Linked DNA regions of Homo sapiens: regions 1 and 2 are each linked to region 3. The links come from fine-mapping of genetic effects on gene expression. A gene starts in region 3. Each other region holds a variant in brackets. All regions are shown on one strand. Distances are between the middles of the regions.

Region 1 (8,668 bases), 37 kb before region 3:
TTGCTTGAGCCCAGGAGTAAAAGGATGCAGTAAAAGGGCTAGAGCCACTGATTCCAGCCTAGGTGACAGAGCAAGATCATCTCTTAAAAAAAAGAAAAAGAGGCCGGGTGTGGTGGCTCACGCCTGTAATCCCAGCACTTTGGGAGGTCGAGGTGGGTGGATCACAAGGTCAGGAGTTCGAGACCAGCCTGGCCAATATGGTGAAACCTCGTCTCTACTAAAAGTACAAAAAAATTAGCCGGGCATGGTAGCACATGCCTGTAATCCCAGCTACTTGGGAGGCTGAGGCAGAATTGCTTGAATCCGGGAGGCAGAGGTTGCAGTGAGCCGAGATCACACCACTGCAGTCCAGCCTGGGTGACAGATTGAGATTCTGTCTCAAAAAAAAAAAAAGAAAAAGAAAAAAAGCAGTTTCTAATATTAATAGCTTCATCAGATAGAGAAAAAATATTTTTTCCTTTTGGACTAACTTATCCTAGACTAACAAAGAAGCAGGAAAATATTCTTTCCAGGTTATGAATAAAGAAGAAAGGAAAGGTGAACACTAAATTGGAATTATAATTCAGTATGGTATTTCAGTTTTTGGTGTCAATCTGCTGAGACAGTAAAATAAAATGATTTGTATTTATTTGATTTTTAAAAACCAAAATAGGCCAGGTCCCATGGCTCACGCCTGTAATCCGGAACTTTGGGTTGGGAGACTAAGGCAGGTGGATCATGTGAGGCCAAGAGTTTGAGACCAGCCTGGCCAACATAGCCAAACCCTGTCTCTACTAAAAAAAATACAAAACTTAGCTGGGCATGGTGGCGTGCACCTGTAGTCCCAGCTACTCAGGAGGCTGAGGAACAAGAATCACTTGAAACTGGGAGGTGGAGGTAGCAGTGAGCCAAGATGGCACCACTCCACTCCAATCTGGGCAATAGAGCAAGACTCAAAGCAAGTCTCAAAAAACACGATGCAACAAAAAAATAGTTATTAAATAACCAAAACTGCACCCAGCTTTCTTCATTGTTGTGAACACAATTATATACAAATATTTGCTGCTAGAGAAAAATCTCAAATGTATACAGTTAGGTGTATGCTGCTTTGAGGATGTGACTATTACCACAGAAGTACACAGCATACATTTCCTTCCAAAACCTGTGGAACTGGAAATGATTTAATCTCTCCCAATTACAAGTACCTGCTTTAATTAACTTTGTTAATAATATAACTGTTTACAGCATCAAAATTAATACTGTGATAACAATCAACTGCTTCTGACAGTCTAAACCAGCAAAACCCTTTTGGAAAGCAATTTATCAATGAGATATACATAATAAAATTATATATGCCTTTTGACCCAATAGTCTTTTAACATGAGAAAAATCATAATTAATCCAGGATTAATTAAAACAATTAAAAATTAAAAACAGGAATAGCTGGCCAAACGTCCATGTCAAAATGCTAAGTAAAACATCCAGAATGGGCCAGGCACAGTGGCTCACGCCTGTAATCCCAGCATTTTGGGAGGCCAAGGAGGGCGGATCACGTGAGGTCAGGAGTTTGAGACCAGCCTAGCCAACATGGTGAAACCCCATGTCAACTAAAAATACAAAAATTAGCTGGGTATGGTGGCACATGCCTGTAATCCCAGCTATTCGGGAGGCCGAGGCAGGAAAATTGCTTGAACCTGGGAGGTGGAGAGGTGGAGGTTACACTGAGCCAAGATCGTACCACTGCACTCCGGCCTGGGCTAATAGAGCAAGACTCCATCTCAAAAAAAAAAAAAAAAAAAACCATCCAGACTGTAAAACAGAATATGTTTACTATGATATGAATACTCTTATGTAAAAAGATGCATGTGTGGACAAGGGAGATAATGTCAAAGTACAGTTTGTTTGTTTTTTCAAAATAAGCAAAATGTTTTATTTATAGGATCCTTTTGCTCTCTGTTTACTCTATTAAAAAAGAAAAGCAGCTGGGTACAGTGCCATGTGCTTTTAGTCCCAGCTACTATTCAGGAGGCTGAGGTGGTAGGACTGCTTGAGCCCAGGAGTTTTAGGCCAGCCCGGGCAACACAGCAAGACCCTTGTCTCTAAAGAAATATATACAAGAAGTTTTTTAAAGAGACAAATAGACAGTTTGGATTATATGCTTTGTGCAGGAAAAACTGTTTCACTAGGGACTAAAAAAACCTATCCTATTAAAACACAACCATAAAAATGAAATGTAGATTTGTTCTCCTTTTCAGTACTATCAAACAATAACTTACTTAGAAAGAATTCCTCGAAGTCAGTTTTCTCCACACAGCTAGTATACATGCGCAGGGCCGCAATCTTAATCTTCTAGACAAAGAGAATAAAACCAAACTCAAGACATGACCAAGTGGATGTTCTACTTCCATTAGACATGGGTCACAAAATCTTATATTTCTTCAACTAGAAGGAAGGGTCCAAACCACTCTCTAGGTAATTTAAACCAATATAAATTTTTTTTGTTTTCTTAGAGCTTAGCCATTCATACAGACTTCACACAATTTTCATATTTTAGGACTTTAGCATGAAAACCTCAGAAAGGCTTTTCCAATATTTAAATGAAATCTCTCATTTAATTCCAACCTACTTCACCACATTTGTGCCTCTAAATCACTGTTCAGCATTATCCACATTAACTCTTTAGAATCTGAAATCCTTTATAGTAAAAAAGTACACATTCTTCTGGCCAAAATCAAAGAAATATACAAAAACCCTCAAGCCTTTAATCTTTCCTCAGAGGCACTACTATCTATTCTATAAATCTCGGGGGATGGAGTAAGCGGTATCTTTTTTCCAGATCTTTAATTTTATAGTTTGCTGATTAACACTGTGTCTGTAAATAAGGGTTTCTAATGACTGTAAAATACAATATAAGAATCAAACTTTTACTATTCCCAAAGCACTAGGAATTCTCTTAGGCTTTTGATATGAGTGGTGGTTTTAATTTTTTCACTGAGCTGTATACTTAAGATTTTTATATTACACTGTATATAAATTATGCCTTAATAAAAATAAATCTAAAAATAAATTATTTAAGAGTTGACTTATGGGTCTGAAGACCAACTCAGCACTCTAGGAACAGGTATTTTAAGGACTTTCAAAACATTTCATTAAGGATATAACTAAATAAATGAGCACTTCAACAAGGCTTCTAGAAGCTTATTTTTTCTTATAACAACAGGGAAAGTTATAAACTCAAATATGCATAGACCAAAAACAAATGTGTACAGGCTGAGAATGACATAGCAACTGAAGAAAAACCAATCTAGAATTTAGTGGAGCTATGATACTAAGGTTTAAAGTCACCAAGAACATACTATACCCAAAACTATATAATGTTCATGTTTTTCTAAATTCTCTAGAGTTAAAGCAAGTGTCTCTGATGGGTAGAAATACCCATAGCAAATTAAAGAATGATTACGTCTCTGATTGTAATTAAGATATTTTATTTGCTAACTTGAGATCTGT[C/T]ATGTTTTTAAGAGCTTCCAGTCTAAAGTTAATACAGGGGAAAATAGGACATATAGAAATAGACAAATAAAAATCAGATATCCCTATCTGGGGAGTAAATCAGCATTAGAAGCCCACGTTTAAACAAAACCCATGGTGAAATGCTAGAAAAGCAAAGCAAATTAAACCTAAAAGCAAGCAGAAAGAATGATATAGTAAAGATCAGAAATCAACAAAACTGAAACAGGAAGATAAAATACAGAAAATTCAAGCCAGGCCAGGCATGGTGGCTCACGCCTGTAATCCCAGCACTTTAGGAGGCTGAGACAGGCAGATCGGCTGAGCCCAGGAGTTGGAGACCAACCTGGGAAACATGGCAAAACGTTTCCATCTCTACCAAAAATACAAAAATTAGCTGGCCATGGTGGTGTGTGCCTATAGTACCAGCTACTCAGGAGGCTGAGGTAGGAGGCTGAGCCTGGAAGGCGGAGGTTGCAGCAAGCTGAGATCACGCCACTGCACTCCAGCCTGGGTGACAGAGCTGGACCTTGCCTAAAAAAAAAAAAAAAAAAAAAAGGAAAATTGAAGCCAAAGCCGTTTCTTTAAAAATATCAATAAAATTAGGTTGGGTTGTGGTGGCTCACCCACCCGGCTCACTAATCCCAGCACTTTGAGAGGCCAAGGCAGGAAGATCAACTGAGGTCAGGATTTCGAGACCAGCCTGGCCAACATGGTGAAACCCCGACTCTACTAAAAATACAAAAATTAGCCAGGCATGGTGGCAGGCGCCTGTAATCCCAGTTACTTGGGAGGCTGAGACAGGAGAATCACTTGAACCTGGGAGGGAGAGGATGCAGTGAGCCGAGATTGTGCCACTGCACTCCAGCCTGGGCGACAGAGCCAGACTCCGCCTCAAAAAAAAAATCAATAAAATTGATAACCTATAAAACTGATCAAGGAAAAAGAAAAGCCCAAAACACATAAGATACAAATTTTCAGTATCAGGAATCAGAGAGCAGACATCACTGCATATCCTAAAGACATTAAAAGGATAATAAGGGAATCCTATGAACAACTTTACTCCAATGAATGTGATTACTTAGATGAAATGGACAAATTCCTTGAAAGATACAAACTATTAAAGCTCACTAAAATAAATAACATGAACAGTCTTGTATCTATTAAAGAAATTGGATTTGTCTTTAAAAACCTCCCCACAATGCAAACTGCAGACCCAGATAGCATCACTAGAGAACTGTACTGAACATCTAAAGAAATGTTATGAAATCAGCCAGGCGCGGTGGCTCACACCTGTAATCCCAGCACTTTGAGAGACTGAGGTGGGCGGATCACGAGGTCAAGAGATTGAGACCATCCTGGCCAACATGGTGAAACTCCATCTCTACTAAATATACAAAAATTAGCTGGGTGTGGTGGTACGCGCCTGTAGTCCCAGGCTGAGGCAGAAGAATCGCTTGAACCCAGGAGGCAGAGGTTGCAGTGAGCTGAGTGCGCCACTGCACTCCAGCCTGGCGACAGAGTGAGACTCCATCTCAAAACAAAACAAAACAAAACAAAAAAAAAAAGAAAAAGAAAAGGAAAAAAGGAAATGTTACGAAATCTACACAAACTCTGCCAGAAAACAAGAAGAAAGGATATTTCCCAGCTCATTCAATAAGGCCAACCTTATCCTGATATCAAAATCAAAGTCATTAGGAGAAAACAAAACTACAGAACAATAGCCTTCATGAACATAGATCATTGATGCAAAATTCCTTAAGAAAATATTTTAAAATTAAATCCATCAATATTTTTAAAAGGATAGTATATCATAATCAAGTGAAATTTATCCCAGGAATGCAAAGATAATTCAACACTGACAAATCAATCAGTTTCACCATATCAACAGACCAAAAAAAGCCTGTTTAATTTTGTTAACACTTGCAGTTCTAGGAAGTATCTGACCACAGAACACATCTTGGGAAGCACTGGTCTGTGCCATTACCAAACTAATGATAATCTAATAATATCATGATCCTAATAATTTGGCCTTGACAGGCCTACTCCTATCCTTAAGACAGGGAGTTCAGGACATCTGCCCTAGCTCCTCACTTCATCCAATAATTCACTGAGTACATAACTCAGTGCCTGGCACTGATCTGGATGATGAGAATAGAGCAGTGGGCAAAACAGACAAAAATCTCTACTCTCATGGAGCTTACGGCCCAGTTCAGCTACAGACAAGTATGTAACTTTAACTAAAATTTCTAATCATCTATTTCTTGATTTTTTTAAATCTTGTAATCTCCTTCAGATTCCTATATATAAAGTCCTGGGTTCATAATTAATCACCTTGCCTGGAGACTTGCCTTCAAGGCCCAAGGCCCAAGTCTTTCCTTGAGAAGGAAGCTTCCCCAACAACACGTTTGTGAAAAAGCATTCATCACAAACAATGAAGACTTCACCAGATTGGCCAGAGTATGTTTTCAGTGCTCATGCTATGGCAATCAGGAGCATTTTATAGTTCTTCACTTTTCCTGCTGCAAGGCCAAGCCTTTATACTTGGGTGAGCCATTTTCCTGGACAAATCTCTAAAACAAGTCTCTAAAGACTATCACACAGAGACTGGAAATAATAACTTGAGGAAAGAACCTCATCAAGAATCATGCACTGATCTGAGTTAAGGACGTAGGGGGACTGAATTTTCAACCAGTCAATACAAGTTGTTCTGGTCCTTGGATGACTTCATATTTATTTCATTTTAATTTTAGAAGACTTCATCAGTCATCTTTTACTTGAGTAAAAGAGAGGCACCTTGAACAGCTTTAGGAAATGAAAATCTGCTCTCCCACGAACTAATGCATTTTTTAACATCCTACAGGATGAAAAACAAATCTAGTAAAATGCTTGCATTAACAGCTATGTAAGAGTTTGAAAGGGCCTGGCAAGGTGGCTCATGCCTGTAATCCCAGCACTTTGAGAGGCCGAGGTGGGCGGATCATGAGGTCAGGAGTTCTGAGACCAGCCTGGCCAAGAGACCAGGGTGGCCAGTATGATGAAACCTCATCTCTACTAAAAATACAAAAATTAGCTGGGCGTGGTGGCAGGCACCTGTAATCCCAGCTACTCGGGAGGCTGAGGCAGGAGAATTGCTTGAACTTGGGAGGCAGAGGTTGCAGTGAGCCGAGATCGCGCCACTGCACTCCAGCCTGGGCGACAGAGCGAGACTCCAACTCAAAAAAAGATAAAAAAGAGTTAGAAGGGTGTTTTAAGTAATTTGAACCTTCTATTGTCTACTGGAAATCCTTCTACAGCATTCTTGATTCACAGTCAACCATCTGGGCCTCTGTTCAAACAAGACCAATGACCTTGTAAGGCTACCTGTCCCACCTGAGGACAATTCTTGTTAGATTCTTATTTTGCTAAACTTAAAATCTGCTTCATATAACATTCATTGAACATTATTCTGCCCACTGGAATACCTTCTTTTTTTCACATTTGCCCCTCAAATACCTGAGAAGAATCATCCTGTCTTCTCTTTTCCAGGCTAAGCATCCCTATTTCCTTCAACCGTTCTTAACAGTTTCTGAAATGTTCATAAGGCTCACTGCCTACCTCTGAATACATTCCAGTTTGTCAGTGTCCTTCAGAATAGGAATAACTTTTTGGCTTAATGCTAATATGGAAACCTATTCTATGGCATGTGGCTGAGTTGGGTAAATATTGTGCTTATCTCACCTGATACTGCATATAAAGGTAATTTTTTAAAATGATGATTCCAAGATACTCAAATAGGTAAGGGAAAGCTACATTTAAGATCCTAAACATGATTATCAAACATGGGAATAACACATGAAACCTAAAGAAAAAGATAGAGAAAAGATAGCTGATACTGCTGATGTGGACAGACATGCAGGTATTTTACTCCCTAATCAAATACATGTGAAAACACAAAACAAATAATTTTGCCAGTGCAATCCAATACAAGTGCATTGATTTGAGTCAACATTGCTGAAAACGGTTCTGTTTTTCAAAATGAAAAGTTACACATACATTTTCACATCTCAATTACACTAGAATGTCATACGTTGATATTGTGATGTAACAAATTTTAAAATGAAGGTTATAGGCTGGGCGCAGTGGCTCAATCCTATAATCCCAGCACTTTGGGAGGCCAAGGCAGGCGGAATCACTTGAGGTCAGGAGTTGGAGACCAGGCTGGCCCAACATGGTGAAACCCCATCTCTACTAAAAATACAAAAGTCAGCCAGGTGTGGTGGCATGCGCCTGTAGTCCCAGCTACTTAGGAGGCTGAGGCAGGAAAATTGCTTGAACCTGGGAGGCGGAGGTTACAGTAGGCTGAGATCACGCTACTGTACTCCAGCCTGGGTGACAGAGTGAGACTCTGTCTCAAAAAAATAAAATTAAAATTAAATAAAATAAAATGAAGGTTATAGAAAGTACACACCATCACATCACAAGAGTTTTAAAATGCAAACATTAGGGATTTAGTTGATGTCACAAGGGAACCAAGAAAAATCAGAGGCTAACTTAGGCTAAAAGAGCAAAGGAATTTTCCTGATGATTTAGTAATCCTCCAAATGATAGCCAATTTTCTCTCTAGAATCATTAAAAAACAGCCTAGACAAAACATATGGTAGCAACCAAGTGGAACCCAATCACCAAGAAATGAATAAAACTGTAAATGTTTCTTTTCTTTTTTTTGTTTTGACTTCCCTCTTAATTTCTAATTTTCAAACAAAACATATACTTTAAGTTTGTAAATCCAAATGCCATAAGCATAACATTTTTTTAATAGGGGAAAAGATTCTGGTTAAAAACATTACCAAGTATATCAACAATTATCAAGTGTCAAAAATTAAGATATTAAAAAATACAACTTTAAAGAACATAACTAATATTTCATTGGCAATTAAGAAGATACTTCATAACCTTAGGGACTCAAGAACATCATTGTCAGTATTTGTGTTCTTTCTATATTTTTTCAAAGCTCCTTAAAAACAAAATGCTTGTGGAATTACTGTTCACTTTTCAGAATTCAGGTAAAAGAGTAATTATAGAGAGAAGCTCATATTTGCTGTAGTGAGAATTGTTAGAAAGAGAACCAGACACCATAAGAAGAAACCACAAGTAGAAGTCTATAATAAAATTGAAATTCTAATTTGAATCCAACTTGTTAAAA
Region 2 (8,668 bases), 120 kb after region 3:
TCAGAGAGCTTCCGCAGTAGCATCTCCAGCTGCATCCAGGAGCCCTGGTCGCTGGCATTCCTGGGATAGATGAAGCATTGTGTGTGGTTTGGTTCCCCACGTCCATCTCAAAGCCCTGGACTTGGGGCCTGCTTCATCTTGGGAAGGGGAGCAGAAACTGATGGAACTGTGGGGCAGGCCTGGCCTTCCTGCTCCCGCCCTCTCCCCAGCACCCACCTGAAAACCACGGGGTATTGGTCGATGTCGTTGCCAAGGCTGGAGCCCTGCGGGATCTGTGGGCGCCCCAACAGCACACAAGTCCCACAATAGAAATCAAAATGGCTCACCGAGAGCCTGGGAATCCCTTTAAACAGCTTCCTCCACAATTTCCCAAGCTCGCTCCCTGAGTTCATGCCCTGGAAACAGCAAGAGGGAGATTGGGGGCTGGGCCCAGGGGAGAGAAAACAGAGCTGGGTGGGTGAGATCTCCATCCAGAGGCTGTGAAGACAGGGCCAAGGGCAGGGATTTGGGCGGAAAGTGGGAGATGGGTGAGGCCCGGAAAGCATGGGGGATATGGCCGGGCCCAGTGTTGACCACTGACCAACCACCAGAGCACAGTGTCAGAGGTCATAGACTCTCTTGTCCTCATCAGGTACCCCATAGTCTTCCTGGAGCACGCATCAAGCCAGTTCCATTCGTCGGCTGTGTGGTGGCAGGAGGAGCAGTTGAGGGTCTCAGAAGGGCAGCCACACTTCCCGGAACTGAACCAAGGGCAGTCGCAATGCTGTGGTACCAAGTACATTCGTTTTTCCTGGGGTGCTGATTCAGGTGTCAGATCCAGATAGGGGGTCATCAGCCAGAGGATGAGCACCCAAAAGACCCACAGGACAAAAATCTGCCAGCGCTTCATGTCTGGCCCAGGCGGTGGCTCCCGTGGTGGGCCGTAGACTGGCTTCTCTACCTGTAAGGATGAGGGGCTGAGGCCACAGACAGCACCAGCTTCCCTCTGTCCTGTCGGCCTCCACAACTCCCCATCCCACCACCTTCCACCTCCTTCCAACCCCTCCTCTCCTGCCTCACTATCCATTTGCTCACCCTCAAAACGGTCTCTGACTGGGCATGGGGTGGAAGAGGCCAGGGCAGAGAGACAGCATGTGGCTAGTCCTGAGAGGGGAAGGAATACCTCAGTGGGGGCCTTGCTGTCATCCCAGTTATATCATAGATCTCATCACAAAGTACACATTGTGACCTCCCTCCTTTAGCCTGCCTGAAAAAAGCCACCACCCTACCCTTTCTCTGACACCGAAATGACCTCCACTGGATGTAAGATTCATGAGGACAGGGGCTGACCTAGTCTCTCTTCTTCACCTCTGCAGCTCTAAGACTTAGAATCATTTAATAAATATTTATGGGATAAATAAACAGGGGTTGAGAGGGAACTTTTTTTTTTTTTTTTGAGATGGAGTTTTTGCTCTGTTGTCCAGGCTGGAGTGCAGTGGCATGATCTTGGCTCACTGCAACTTCCGCCTGCCTGGTTCAAGCGATTCTCATGCCTCAGCCTCCCAAGTAGCTGGGACTACAGGCATGCGCCACCACGCCTGGCTAATTTTTATATTTTTAGTGGAGACAGGGTTTCGCCATATTGGCCAGGCTGGTCTCAAACTCCTGACCTCAAGTGATCCGCCCACCTCAGCCTCCCAAAGTGCTGGAATTACAGGCGTGAACCACCATGCCCAGCCGGGAACTTTATTTTTAAATTATTATTATTATTATTATTATTATTATTATTATTATTATTATTTTGAGACGGAGTTTCACTCTTGTCGCCCCAGCTGGAGTGCAGAGGCACGATCTCGGCTCACTGCACCCTCTACCTCCCGGGTTTAAGTGATTCTCTTGCCTCGGTTTCCCAAGTAGCTGGGATTACAGGTGCCCGCCACCACGCCTGGCTAATTTTTTTGTATTTTTAGTAGAGACGGGGTTTCCCCATGTTGGTCAGACTGATCTCGAACTTCTGACCTCAGGTGATCCGCCCGCCTTGGCCTCCCAAAGTGTTGGGATTACAGGCATGAGCCACTGCACCCCGCCCCAGCCTGGAACTTTAAATATACTTGTGTGTGATGCCCTCTCTGGAGTTGTGTGACATCAACTCAATCCTCTCTTGTAGTCTCTAGACCCCATATCCAACAGCCTACTGAATTGCCACTTAGATGGCTCAGAGACATCTCACCTGAATAAGCCTGAGACTGAACCCAGGATTTTCCCTGTAAACCAACCCTTCCCAAAACTTCTCTGTCTCTTTTGTTTTGTTTGAGACAGAGTCTTGCTCTGTCACCCAGGCTGGAGTGCAGTGGCGCAATCTCAGCTCACTGCAACTTCTGCCTCCTCCGGGGTTCAAGCAATTCTCCTGCCTCTGCCTCCCGAATAGCTGGGATTACAGGTGCGTGCCACCAAGCCCGGCTAATTTTTTGTATTTTTGGTACAAACGGGATTCCACCATGTTGGCCAGGCTGATCTCAAACTCCTGACCTCAGGTAATCTGCCCACCTCGGCCTCCCAAAGTACTGGGATTACAGGCGTGAGCCACTGCACCCAGCTTCAAAACTTCTCTATCTCAACAAATGGTTCCACCACGTACCCAGTTATTGAAACCAGAACTCATGTGTTATTAATTCCTCCTACTCCTATGATACCCAAATTCTTTTTTTTTTTTTTTTTTTAGGACAAAGTCTCACTCTGTCACCCAGGCAGGAGTGCAGTGGCACAATCTTAGCCCACTGTAGCCTCTGCCTCCAAGGTTCAAGCAATCCTTTCACCTCAGCTTGCCAAGATGCTGGGACTACAGAAGTGTGCCACCACGCTAGGCTTATTTATTTATTTAATTTATTTTTGAAACAGAGTCTCACTCTGTCGCCCAGGCTGGAGTGCAGTGGCACAATCTTGGCTCACTGCAACCTCTACCTCCCAGGTTCAAGTGATTCTCATGCCTTAGCCTCCCAGGTAGCTGGGACTACAGGCGCACAACACCACACCTGGCTCATTTTTGTATTTTTTTGGTAGAAACGGGGTTTCACTGTGTTGGCTAGGCTGGTCTCCATCTCCTGGTCTCAAGCAATCCGCCCACCTCGGCCTCCCAAAGTGCTGGAATTACAGGCGTGAGCCACCGAGCCTTGCTGATTTTTTTTTTTAAGTAGAGATGGGGTTTACTGTGCCAGCCCTGTCTCGAACTCAGCTCAAGTGATCCACCCTCCTCGGCCTTTCAAAGTGCTGAGATTACAGGCATAAGCCACTGAGTCTGGCCTCAAATCCATTTTTTAATTCGTTTCTATTTCTAAGTCATCTTCTTCATCTCCACTGCCACCCCCTTAATTCAATTGTAGTCTTGTAAAGATAGTAAAAAAATGAAAATGTTTGAGTTGTTTTTAAAGTTTAAGAAAAAAACAGAACATTTTGGTTTTTAAAAAAAATCAAAACATTTTATTCAATGGGATAAGAACAGTAAAATTCTTCATCTTAACTAGTGGAAAGCTGCACTGGATATTGTATAGCTTTTAAATCAATTCACCCAAATATCTGAGTAAGGTGTGTAGGCTAGTTAATTATATCATACCAACGTCAAGTTCCAGGTTTTGAAAAAGTACCATATGGGCTGGGCGCGGTGGCCCACGCCTGTAATCCCAGCATTTTGGGAGGCAAGGTGGGCAGATCACCTGAGGTCAGGAGTTCGAGACCAGCCTGACCAACATGGAGAAACCCTGTCTCTATTAAAAATACAAAATTAGCCAAGCATGGTGGCGCATGCCTGTAATTCCAGCTACTCGGGAGGCTGAGGCAGGAAAATTGCTTGAACCCGGGAGGCGGAGGTTGCGGTGAGCCGAGATCGCACCACTGAATGTGATTTTAGCTGGGCAAAAAGAGTGAAACTCTGTCTCAAAAAAAGAAAAAGAAAAATTACTATATGTATTATATGGTAAGACACTACCATTAAGAGAAAATGAAGGCCAGGCACAGTGGCTCGTGCCTGTAATCCCAGCACTTTGGGAGGCCAAGGTGGGGTTTGAAGCTTGAAGCCAGGAGTTTGAGACCAGCCTGGGCAACACAGCAAGACTCTACACACACACACACACACACACACACACACACACACACACACACACAAAATTAGCTGGGCTTGGTGGTGTGCGCCTTTATTCCTAGCTACTTGGGAGGTTCAGGTGGGAGGATCACTTGAGTCCAGGAGTTAAAGGCTGCAGTGAGTTATGATAGCAGCACTGCACTCCAGCCTGCGTGACAGAGCAAGACTCTGTCTCTAAAAAAAAAAAATAAAGCAAAAATAAAGAATAAAATGGGAAAATGGATGATGGGTACATGGGAATTTTCTGTACTATTTTTACAATTTCTTGTGTGCCTATGGTTTTTTCAAAATGAAAAGGTTTTAAAAATTATCTACCAGCCTGGGCAACGTAGGGAGACCCTATCTCTATAAAAAATATAAAAATTGGCCATTGTGGTCCCAGCTACTCAGGAGGAGACTGAGGTAGGGAATACTTGAGCCCAGGAAGTCAAGGCTTCGGTGATATGTGATTGCACCACTGCACTCCAGCCTGAGTGACAGAGTGAGACCTTGTCTCAAAGAAAAAAAATCATTTAGGAAAAGATGTATAGCAAGTTTTATTGCTATTTCATTTACATCAACTGCTACAATTTTTTTTTCTTTTTTGAGATGGAGCCTTGCTCTTTTGCCAGGCTAGAGTGCAGTGGCATGATCTCAGCTCACTGCAACCTCTGCTTCCCGGGTTCAAGAGATGCTCCTGCCTCAGCCTCCCGAGTAGCTGGGACTACAGGTCCGAGCCAGCACGCGCAGCTAATTTTTGTATTTTTAGTAGAGACAGGGTTTCACCATGTTGACCAGGATGATCTCAATCTCTTGACCTTGTCATCTGCCTGCCTTGGCCTCCCAAAGTGCTGGGATTACAGGTATGAGCCACTGTGCCTGGCCAACTGGTATAATTTTTAAAATTTTTGTAAACTCATAAAATTTACCATTTTAACCATTTTAAAAATATTTTGGCCGGGTGTGGTGGCTTATGCCTGTAATCCTAGCACTTTGGGAGGCTGAGGCAGGCGGATTGCCTGAGCTCAGGAGTTCAAGACCAGCTTGGGCAATATGGTGAAACCCTGTCTCTACTAAAATACAAAAATTAGCCAGGCGTGGCGGTGTGTGCCTGTAATCCCAGCTACTTGGGAGGCTGAGGCAGGAGAATTGCTTGAACCCAGGAGGCAGAGGTTGCAGTGACCTGAGATCGCACCACTGTACTCCAGCCTAGGCAATGGAATGAGACTCTGTCT[CA/C]AAAAAAAAAAAAAAAAAATATATATATATATATGTGTGTGTGTGTGTGTGTGTGTGTGTGTGTGTGTATATATATATATTTTTATTTTATATAATATATATAAAATTTTATTTTAAGTTCCAGGATACAGGCCAGGAGCAGTGGCTCACGCCTGTAATCACAACACTTTGGGAGGCCAAGACAGGGGAGGGGGATCACAAGGTCAAGGGATTGAGACCATCCTGGCCAACATGGTGAAACCCCATCTCTACTAAAAATACAAAAATTAGTTGGGCATAGTGGCGCGTGCCTGTAATCCCAGCTACTCAGGAGGCTGAGGCAGGAGAATCGCTTGAACCCAGGAGGCGGAAGTTGCAGTGAGCTGAAATCGAGGCACTGCACTCCAGCCTGGTGACAGACTCCATCTCAGAAAAAAAAAAAAAAAAAGAAAGTTCCGAGATACATGTGCAGGTTTGTTACGTAGGTAAATGTGTGCCATGGTGGTTTGCTGCACCTATCAACCCATCACGTAGGCATTAAGCCCTGCCTGCATTAGCTATCCTGATGCGCTCCCTCCCACTGGCCTGCCCACCAGGCAGGCCCCAGTGTGTGTTGTTCCCCTCCCTGTGTCCATGTGTTCTCATTGCATTTTATCCATTTTTTTAATGTGCAACCATCATCACTATCTAGTCTCAGAACACATTCATCATTCCAAGCATACTCTAGTGAATAATACATTGAATAAGACTAGAATCAATTACATGACATTCATATCCCCACTACCCATTTTTTCCAGATCTTAGCATTTCTTTGCTTTTGCTGTTCTGGTGTTTAGGTATGAATATATGTTCATTTATCCTGTTACAGTACATTCAGGCTTCCTAAATATGAGAACTCTTGCCTTTCATCAATTCTGGGTAATTCTCAGCCATTTCTTTCAAATATTGCCTCTCCCTTATTCTCAGTATTTCCTCCTATTAGGAAACTCCTATTAGGCAAATGTTGGATTGTTTTTCTTTCTATCCTTCAAGTATCTGAATCTCTCTTTTACATCTATGATTTTATTTCTCTATATTACATTATGGGTAATGTTTTTCAGCTCCATCTTTCTGTTCAATATTTCTCTCTCTCTCTCTCTTTTTTTTTTTTTTTTGAGACGGAGTTCTCACTCTGTTGCCCAGGCTGGAGTACAGTGGCCCCATCTCAGCTCACTGCAACCACCTTCCAGGTTCAAGCAGTTCTCCTGCCTTAGCCTACCAAGTAGCTGGTATTACAGACGTTCATCACCATGCCTGGCTAATTTTTGTATTTTTAGTAGAGATGGGGTTTCACCATGTTGGCCAGGCTGGTCTCAAACTCCTGACTTCAGGTGATCCACCTGCCTTGGCTTCCCAAAGTGCTGGGATTACAGGTGTGAGCCACTGCACCCGGCCAATATTTCTCTCTTTAACTGTGCCTAATTGGTTGTTTAGCCCTTCTACTGGTTTTTAAACTTAAATGACTATTTTTCATTTCTAGAAATTCTTTGAAATGTACTTTCACTTTTTTTTTTTTTTTCTATGGAGTCTCGCTCTGTCGCCGAGGCTGATGTGCAGTGGTGCAATCTCGGCTCACTGCAACCTCCACCTCCCAGGTTCAAGCGATTCTCCTGCCTCAGCCTCCTGAGTAGCTGGGATTACAGGCGTGCGCCTGCCATCTTGGGAAAGTCAGTTCACCTCTTGGCTTCCTCATCTATAAAATGAGACTTGAAGTAGCACCTAGGCTGCGCATGCGCTGGCTCATGCCTGTAATACCAGCACTTTTGGAGGCTGAGGCAGGTGGATTGCCTGAGGCCAGGAGTTAGAAACCAGCCTGGCCAACGTGGCAAAACCCCATCTCTACAAAAAATACAAAAATTAGCTGGGCATGGTGGTGTGCACCTGTAATCCCAGCTACTCAGGAGGCTGAGGCATGAGAATTGCTTGAACCTGGGAGGCAGACGTTGCAGTGAGCCAAGATCACGCCACTGCACTCTAGCTTGAGTGACAGAGCGAAACTCTGTCTCAAAAAAAAAAAAAAAGCACCTAACTCCCACGTTGTTTTGAGGGTGAAATGGATTACAGCAATGGGCATATTGTCCATGTTCAGTTAGTATTAGTTTCTCCTTGTCTTTGCTCCTTCCTTGGTGAGCTGCGGTCAGGCTGCCACAGTCACCCAACTCCAGGGTCCCTCCTCTTCCTTTTTATGGAAGCATTCCCTAACCCAGCATGTTAGTCACCTTCCCTTACAGACTCCCATGGTCCCCCTGTGCCACCTCTTATCAAAGTTTTGATCTTAAGTCATTGAATGATTTGAGCTATGCACTTTGAAATAAAACAGACTGGAGTTTAGATATTAGCTTATTAGCCACTCAAAGCTTTTAATCAGGGATAATAATAGCAGTTAGCATCTAAGGTTGTTGTTTTTGTTGTTGTTTTGTTTTTAGAGACAGGGTCTTGCTATATTGCCCAGGCTGGTCTCAAACTCCTGGGCTTAAGTGATCCTCCCTCTCCTGCCTCAGTCTCCCAAGTAGCTGGAACTATAGGTGTGTACCACTGTGCCCGGCCTAAGGTTGTTGTGAAGATGAACTGACATGATATAGGTGAAGATAAAAGAGTTTACAACAGGGCAGGTGCGGTGGCTCATGGCTGTAATCCCAGCACTTTGGGAGGCCAAAGCGGGCAGATCATTTGAGGTCAGAGTTCGAGACCAACCTGGCCAACATGGTGAAACCCCATTTCTACCAAAAATATAAAAAATTAGCCAGGTGTGGTGGTGGACGCCTGTAATCCCACTACTCGGGAGGCTGAGGCATGAGAATCGCTTGAACTGGGAGGTGGAGGTTGCAGTGAACTGAGATTGCACAACTGCACTCCAGCCTGGGTAACAGAATGAGAATCTGTCTCAAAAAAAAAAAAAGAGTTTACCACCATATTTGCCACATAGTAGTGGCTTGACAAATGCTAGGTATTTTTTTTTTTTGAGATGGAGTCTCCCTCTGTCACCCAGGCTGGAGTGCAGTGATGCGATCTTGGCTCACTGCAACCTCTGCCTGCCGGGTTCAAGCCATTCTCCTGCCTCAGCCTCCCAAGTAGCTGGGACTACAAGTGCACGCCACCATGCCTGGCTAATTTTTTGTATTTTTAGTATAGACAAGGTTTCACTATGCTGGTCAGGCTGGTCTCAAACTCCTGACCTTGTGATCCTCCCACTTCTGACACCCAAAGTGCTGGAATTACAGGTGTGAGCCACTGCACCCGGCCAATGCTAGCTATTTTAAAAAATTATTATTATTAGCTATTATTTTTATTTTTATTATTTTATTAAGGGATATATTAATA
Region 3 (7,885 bases):
AGCGAGACCCTATCTCCAAAAAAAAAAAAAGAGAAAATTCTGACACATGCTACAACATGGATGAATCTTGAGGACATTACGCTAAATGAAATAAGCCAGTCACAAAAGGTCAAATACTGTATGATTCCACTTATATGAGGTACACAAAGTAGTTAAACTCACGGAGACAGAAAGTAGAATGGTGGCTGCCAGGGGCTGGGGAGAAAAGACTATAGAGAGTTATTAATAGGTTCAGAGTTTCAGTTTTATAAAATGAAAATAATTCTGTGGATAAGGGTGGTAAAGATGGCACAACAATGTAAATGCACTCAATACCACAGAACTGTACACTTAAAAAGTTTCAAAGGTGGCCAAGCACAGTGGCTCATGCCTGTAATCCCAGCACTTTGGGAGGCCAAGGCGGGCAGATCACCTGAGGTCAGGAATTCAAGATCAGCCTGGCTAAAATGGTGAAACCCCATTTCTACTAAAAATACAAAAAATTAGCTGAACGTAGTGGCACGTGCCTGTAATCCCAGCTACTCAGGAGGCTGAGGCAGGAGAATCGCTTGAACCCGGGAGGCAGAGGTTGCAGTGAGCCAAGATCACGCCATTGCACTCCAGCTTGCGCAACAAGAGCAAAACTCCGTCTCAGAAAAAAAAAAAAAAGTTTAAAAGGTAAATTTTGTTACATGTATTTTACCACAACTTTTTTTTAATTTTCTAAAGTACAGGGTGGCTTTCTGCAATTTTTACTATTTCCAAAGAAAAGCAGAAATGATCAGCAATGCCCAGGACAACTCATAAAAACCATAAGCATGTCCAGTTCCACTGATCAAATGTCCAGGCTCTCTGCTGTAGTCATTCAACAATAGCAGTGTTTTAGTTTCCTCCTCCTTCCCAAAACCATCACTGGAGAAGGGAAAATATTGGCTGACAAGACAAAAAGAGGAAAAAATAAAGCAAGACTAACAAGAATGTTTCAGGAATACTTCTTTTTTTTTTTCAGACAGAGTTTCACTCTTTCACCCAGGCTGGACTGCAGTGGCACAATCTCAGCTCACTGCAACCTCCGCCTCCTGGGTTGAAGCAATTCTCGTGTCTCAGCCTCACGAGTAGCTGGGATTACAGGCGCCCACCACCAGGCCTGGCTAATTTTTGTATTTTTAGTAGAGACAGGGTTTCACCACGTTGGCCAGGCTGGTCTTGAACTCCTGGCCTCAAGTGATCCACCTACCTCAGCCTCCCAATGTGCTGGGATTACAGGTGTGAGCCACGGCACCTGGCCAGGAATACCTCTCTGTGGTTCAGTTTTCTTATCTGTAAAATAGAGGAAATAACACGCCCTCCTTTCCAAAGGGATGTTATAAGGATTAGGTAAGTATTTTAAAGTGCTTAGCACGTAGTAAGTGCCCTATAAAATGATAGTTGTCAGGCCAGGCTCGGTGGCTCATGCCTGTTATCCCAGCACTTTGGGAGGCCGCAGGAGGCGGATCATGAGGTCAGGAGTTCGAGACCAGTCTGGCCAACATGGTGAAACTCCATCTCTACTAAAAATACAAAAGTTAGCCAGGTGTGGTGGCAGGCGCCTGTAATCCCAGCTACTTGGGAGGCTGAAGCAGGAGAACTGCTTGAACCCAGGAGGCAGAGGTTGCAGTGAGCCGAGATCACACCGCTGAACTCCACCCTGGGTGACAGAGCGAGACTCCATCTCAAAAAAAAAAAAAATACAAAAATTAGTCAGGTGTGGTGTGGTGCATGCCTGTCATCCCAGCTACTCGGGAGGCTGGCACAGGAGAATTGCTTGAACCCGGGAGCAGAAGTTGCAGTGAGCCCGAGATGGCACCACTGCACTCCAGCTTCGGCGACAGAGCAAGACTCTGCCTCAAAAAAAAAAAAAAAAAAAACAAAACCCTAAAGGGTGGCAGGGGAAGGATTAAAAAAAAAAAAAAAAAAAAAACCACTAAATTCAGAACATTCTAATTGCCATTTCCCCAGCAGTCCTCATTTCTGAATCAATTTCTGGCCTGAAATCAAACAATCACTTCACCAGGTGAATCTTTCTGGCAGTTACAGGGGCTACTCTACAAATAAATATTTACTGAACAGCAGTCGAGGGTACCTCACTCTGCTAGGCTGGCAAGGAATACAAGAAGTAAAACTGTCGTCCTTGTAAGACATATATAAAAAGATCAAAAACACAAATGTAAAATAACAATTCAGAAGTTACCTAGACACAGGAATAGACCATGTCTACTATGAAAAACAGTGTCTTTGACCCAGTTTTTGAAGACTCGCTAAAACTATACACTCTCCCATCCCTCCATGATTAAAAACTAAGCTCTGTATCCTAACGTTTTTTCTGCTGCCACTTTCTTTTCTCCTTTAATTGCTAGAGAAAAGAGTATGCTAGAAGGGTCAGGACTAAATCTCAAGAGGTGCAGTAGTTTCACACACGGGTGCTAAAGAGTCTGGTAGTCTTTCCTTACTTCATTCATTTATTCAACAAGTAATCATTTAACACCTATGATGTGCCAGACACCATGCTAGGCAAAGTGAAAACGACGGAGACAGACATGACTCCAATTCTCACGCAGCTTTCAATCTAATAATCTATATTCCACTTAACTGTACAGTTAAGAACTGACTTATTACCTATGAAAGAAACCCTGAGAATCTCAGAATCTAAAGGGACTGCAGGAGATAAATGTCCTCGTTTTTCACATAGGGTCAATGAGGCCCAAAAGTGACTTGCTTAAAGTCACTATGCATCAGTGACAGTCAGGGACTAGAACCCAGGCCTCCTGAAACTCCAATCAGTGTCCTACATGCTCCTCTCCCTGAGGGGAAGCAGGTACATGGGGGAGGGAAGGAAAAGTAAACCCCATCAAATAAAGGCCAGATGTCAGTCTTCCCCTTCTCGAAAGATGGGGGAGCTAAGGTCAAAACGGGGTAGGAAGAGGTCGGAAGCTGCCTCAGTTTCCCCACGGAAAAGCGGCCACTCAGCCTAGCTATAACACAGGCTTCCCTCCTGCGATTCCTTCCAATTCCTCCCGCCCTGCCTTGTCGAACTCCAACCCGGGACCCAGAGAGCTACCGTAGAAAATTACTCCTTCACTCACAAGGACTCGCACCAGCAACGCCATGTTCCTCAATAACCATTTCCGGGTGAAGAGTGAGTTTCCGGTGTCCCCTTTTCTACGTCCTCCTTTTGCCGGCGAAAGACTGGCAAGGGGGGCGCAGGCGCAAAGAGGTCGCTACGCGCACGCGCTGTTGTTTTCTCGGCTGTGCACCAGGCTGTCGTGCCCGGGCACGCTCTCCCTGCTGTCTCCCCCACTACACGTAACAGTGGTTCAAATCCTTCCCCCACGCCTGTCTCCTTGACCCCAGACCTCGGGGCTTCTCATATCCCTCTCTTTATTCCCCACCTAACCCAGCCTCACTCCTCAGCCCCTCCTTCCCAAACTCCACCCCAACACTTTTCAATGGAGGTTGAAAAGAACAGGACTTTAGGAAATCCCAATCTTTAGAAAGAGCCAGAAGACCGGGCGCGGTGGCTCACGCCTGTAATCCCAGCACTTTGGGAGGCCGAGGCGGGCGGATCACCTGAGATCAGGAGTTCGAGACTAGCCTGGCCAACATGGCAAAACCCCGTCCCTAACTAAAAATACAAAGAAAGTAGCCGGGCATGTTGGTGTGTGCCTGTAATCCCAGCTACTCTGAAGGCAGAGGTTGCAGTGAGCCGAGATCGCGCCACTGCACTCCAGCCTGGGCGACAGAGCAGGACTGGACTCTGTCTCAAAAAAAAAAAAAAAAAAAAAAAAAAAAAAGCCAGAGAAGGAGGCTAAGATAAAAGAATACGGGGGATACCAGACTCCTGAAAGTCAAGGCAAGAAGGCGGTCATGTGCCGATCTGAAGCCTGGTAGAGGAAGAAACTTTTGGGATTTGTGGTTGGTTGGTTGTTTAAGGGAAACATCTTTGCATATTGATAGGAAAAGATTAGTGAAGAGTATACAGGGCCGTGCCCGGTGGCTCATGCCTGTAATCCCAACACTTTGGGAGGCCGAGGCAGGTGGATTGCCTGAGGTCAGGAGTTCAAGACCAGCCTGACCAATATGGTGAAACCCCGTCTCTACTGAAAATACGAAAAAAATTAGCCGGGCATGGTGGCGTGTGCCTGTAATCCCAGCTACTTGGGAGGCTGAGGCAGGGAATCGCTTGAACCCGGGAGGCAGAGGTTGCAGTGAGCTGAGACTGGGGCACTGAACTCCAGCCTGGGTGACAAAGCGAGACTCCGTCTCAAAAAAAAAAAAAAAAAAAGAGTATACAGGAGAATCAATCAAAGAGGCAAGGAGCTTCTTGAGGAAAGTGGCAGAGAACGGCCTTGGTAGAAGACTCCTCTTCCATTACATCCCAAGAGAAGAGAAGACAAAGTACTGGTGCTTTGGGGGTTGAGGGAGCAGAGGGGCAGGATGTTGAAGGACTTCTTTCATTTCATTCAGTCAACAAAGACCTATTGAGTCTTCCCTATGTGCTGAACACAAGACATACTGGCTTCATGGAGTTCTTAGACTGGTGGGGGAGGCATAGGAACCCAGTGAAAAAAATTAAAACTGGGGAGCTACTTTGGTTAGGTTGGTAAGGCCTCTCCAAGAAAGTGACATGTAAGATGAAATCTAAAGGAAGAAGAGGAGCTAGTCATGGGAAATAACTTCACTCGACTATTTTTTTAATTAAATTTATTGATTTTTATTAATTGACAAAAAATATATATTGTGTACAACAGGATGTTTTCTTTTTTCTTTTTTTTTTTTTTTTTGAGACAGAGTTTCACTCTTGTCGCCCAGGCTGGAGTGCAGTGGCTCAATCTCGGCTCACTGCAACCTCCACCTCCCAAGTCAAGCGATTCTCCTGCCTCAGACTCCCAAGTAGCTGGGATTACAGATGCGCACCACCACGCCTGGCTAATTTTTGTGTTTTCAGTAGAGACGGGGTTTTGCCATTTCGGCTAGGACGGTCTCAAACTCCTAACCTCAGGTGATCCACCCACATCGGCCTCCGAAAGTGCTGGGATTACAAGAGTGAGCCACCGTGCCCCCGGCCAGGATGTTTTAAAATATGTATACATTGTGAAATGGCTAAGTCAAGCTAATTAATATATGCATTACCTCATATTTTTGTGCTGGAAATGTTTAAAATATGTTCTTTAAGCAATTTTCAAGAATACAATACATATTCATAGTGGGTATAGTCACCATGTTATACAATAGATCTTTTCTTTTTTTTTTTGAGACGGAGTTTCACTCTTGTTGCCCAGGCTGGAGCGCAATGGCGTGATCTTGGCTCACTGCAACCTCTGCCTCCCGGGTTCAAGTGATTCTCCTGCCTCAGCCTCCTGAGTAGCTGGGATTACAGGCATGCGCCACCACGCCCAGCTAATATTATATTTTAGTAGAGACGGGGTTTCTCCATGTTGGTCAGGCTGGTCTCGAACTCCCGACCTCAGGTGATCCGCCTGCCTTGGCCTCCCAAAGTGGCCTCCTGAACTTATCTCTCTTAACTGAAATTTTGTATCCTTTGACAAACATCTCCTCAGCCTCTAGTAACCACCATTCTACTCTCTACTTCTGTGTGTTCAACTTATATTCCACATATGAGAGAAATCAAGCAGTGTTTGTCTTTCTGTGCCTCATTTATTTCTCTTAACATAACATCCTCCCAGTTCATCCATGTTGTCATAGATATGAGCATTTCCTTCTTTTTTTTTTCCTTGAGACAGAGTCTTGCTCTTGTTGCCCAGGCTGGAGTGCAGTGGCACAATCTTGGCTCACTGCAACCTCTCCCTCCCGGGTTCAAGCAATTCTCCTGCCTCAGCCTCCCAAGTAGCCTGGACTACAGGCATGTGCCACCACACCCAGCTAATTTTTATTTTTAGTAGAGATGGGGTTTCTCCATGTTGGTCAGGCTGGTCTTGAGCTCCCGACCTCAGGTGATCTGCCCACCTTGGCTTCCCAAAGTGTTGGGATTACAGGTGTGAGCCACCGCACCTGGCCAGCATTTCCTTCTTCTTTTAGGCTGAATAGCATTCCATTATATATATAAATCACTTTTTTTTTTTTTTGAGACAGAGTCTTGCTCTGCCGCCCAGGGTGGAGTGCAGTGACACAATCCCAGCTCACTGCAGCCTGTACCTCCTGGGTTCAAGCAATTCTTGTGCCTCAGTCTCCCAAGTAGCTGGGACTACAGGCACGTGCCACCATGTCCGGCTAATTTTTGTATTTTTAGTAGAGACAGGGTTTCACCATGCTGGCCAGGCTGGTCTCGAACTCCTGGCCTCAAGTCATCTGCCCACCTCTGCCTCCCAAAGTACTGGGATTACAGGCATGAGTCACTGTACCTGGTCATAAACCACATTTTCTTTCTTTCTTTCTTTCTTTTTTCTTTTTTTTTTTTTTTTTTTTTGAGACGGAGTCTCACTCTGCCACCAGGCTAGAGTGCAGTGATGCAATCTCAGCTCACTGCAACCTCCCCCTCCCAGGTTCAAGCGATTCTCCTGCCTCAGCCTCCTGAGTAGCAGGGATTACAGGCGTGCACCACTACACCCAGCTAATTTTTGTATTTTTAGTAGAGACGGGTTTCACCATGTTGGTCAGGATGGTCTCGGTCTCCTGACCTCATGATCTGCCCACCTCGGCCTCCCAAAGTGCTGGAATTACAGGCGTGAACAACCACGCCCAGCCACCACATTTTCTTTATTTGTTCATCACTAATGGACACTTAGGTTAATTCCATACTTGGCTGTTGTGAATACCACTGCAATGAACATGTTAGTATAGATGCCTCTTCAACATACTGATTTCATCTCCTTTGAATATATATCCAATAGTGAGACTGCTGTATCCTATGGTGGTTCTGTTTTTAATTGTTTGAGGAACCTCCATACTGTTTTCTATAATGGGTGTACTAATTTACATTCCACCAACAGTGTGCAAGGGTTCCCTTTCTCCACGTCCTTAGGAACAATGTTATAGTAGCCATTCGAACAGGTGCAAGGTAATATCTCATTGTGGCTTTAGATTGCATTTCCCTGATGATTAATGATGCTGAGCATTTTTTCATATACTTGTTGGCCATTTGTATGTCTTCTTTTGAGAAATGTCTATTCAGATCTTTTGCCCATTTTAAAATTTGGGTATTAACCCCTCATCAGATATATGGTTTTTAAATGTTTTCTCCCATTCCATACGTTGTCTCTTCACTCCGTTGATTGTTTCCTTTGCTGTGCAAAAGTTTCTTAGTTTCATATAACACTATTTCTCTATTTTCACTCTTTTTGCCTGTACTTTTGGGGTCATATTAAAAAAATTATTGCCCAGACCCAGGTCATGCAGCTTTTCCTCTATATTTTCTTCTTCTAGTAATTTTAGTTTGAGGTCTTGTGTTTAAGGCTTAAATCTATTTGGAATTGATTTTTATTTGAGACAGGGTCTTGCTCTGTCACCCAGGCTGGAGTGCAGTGGTGCAATCAAGGCTCACTGTAGCCTCAAAGTCCTGGGCTTAAGTGATCCTCCCTCCTCAGCCTCTTGAATAGCTGGGTCCGTAGGCATGTGCCACCATGCCTAGCTAATTTTTTTATTTTTAGTAGAGATGGGGTACGGGGGTCTCTCTATGTTTCCCAGGCTGGTCTCAATCTTCTGGGCTTGAGCAATCCTCTCATCTCAGCCTCTCAAAGTGCTAGGATTAAAGGTGTGAGCCATAACACCCGACCTTCGATTTTTGTATATGGTATGAGGTGAGAGTCTAATTTCATTCTGCATGTGGATATCTAGTTGTCCCTACACCATTTATTAAAAAGACTGCCCTTTACCCATTGTGTGTTCTTTGCACCGTTGTTGAAAATCAATT

The links. PIP is the estimated chance that this variant, and not a neighbour inherited with it, causes the effect.
Region 1: its variant is fine-mapped to the expression of UQCC1 in whole blood (TOPMed, PIP 0.99).
Region 2: its variant is fine-mapped to the expression of UQCC1 in whole blood (INTERVAL, PIP 0.96).

Annotation. Positions count from the first base shown.
Region 1 is chr20:35,371,929-35,380,596 of GRCh38, forward strand. UQCC1 (ubiquinol-cytochrome c reductase complex assembly factor 1) reads right to left here. Exons shown (of 10, transcript NM_018244.5): 5 at 2,256-2,328. Among named protein-coding and RNA genes, the nearest start is that of UQCC1, 36 kb to the right of the region's middle. The variant C/T (reference allele first, on the strand shown) is at 3,487.
Region 2 is chr20:35,528,485-35,537,152 of GRCh38, forward strand. It overlaps C20orf173 (chromosome 20 open reading frame 173), which reads right to left and starts at 1,168. Exons shown (of 6, transcript NM_001145350.2): 1 at 1,075-1,168; 2 at 581-940; 3 at 217-395; 4 at 1-60. The coding sequence starts at 889. The variant CA/C (reference allele first, on the strand shown) is at 5,329.
Region 3 is chr20:35,408,839-35,416,723 of GRCh38, forward strand. It overlaps UQCC1 (ubiquinol-cytochrome c reductase complex assembly factor 1), which reads right to left and starts at 3,135. Exons shown (of 10, transcript NM_018244.5): 1 at 3,102-3,135. The coding sequence starts at 3,125. RefSeq lists enhancers at 2,467-3,290, 2,881-2,980, 3,041-3,190, 3,291-4,113, 3,321-3,370.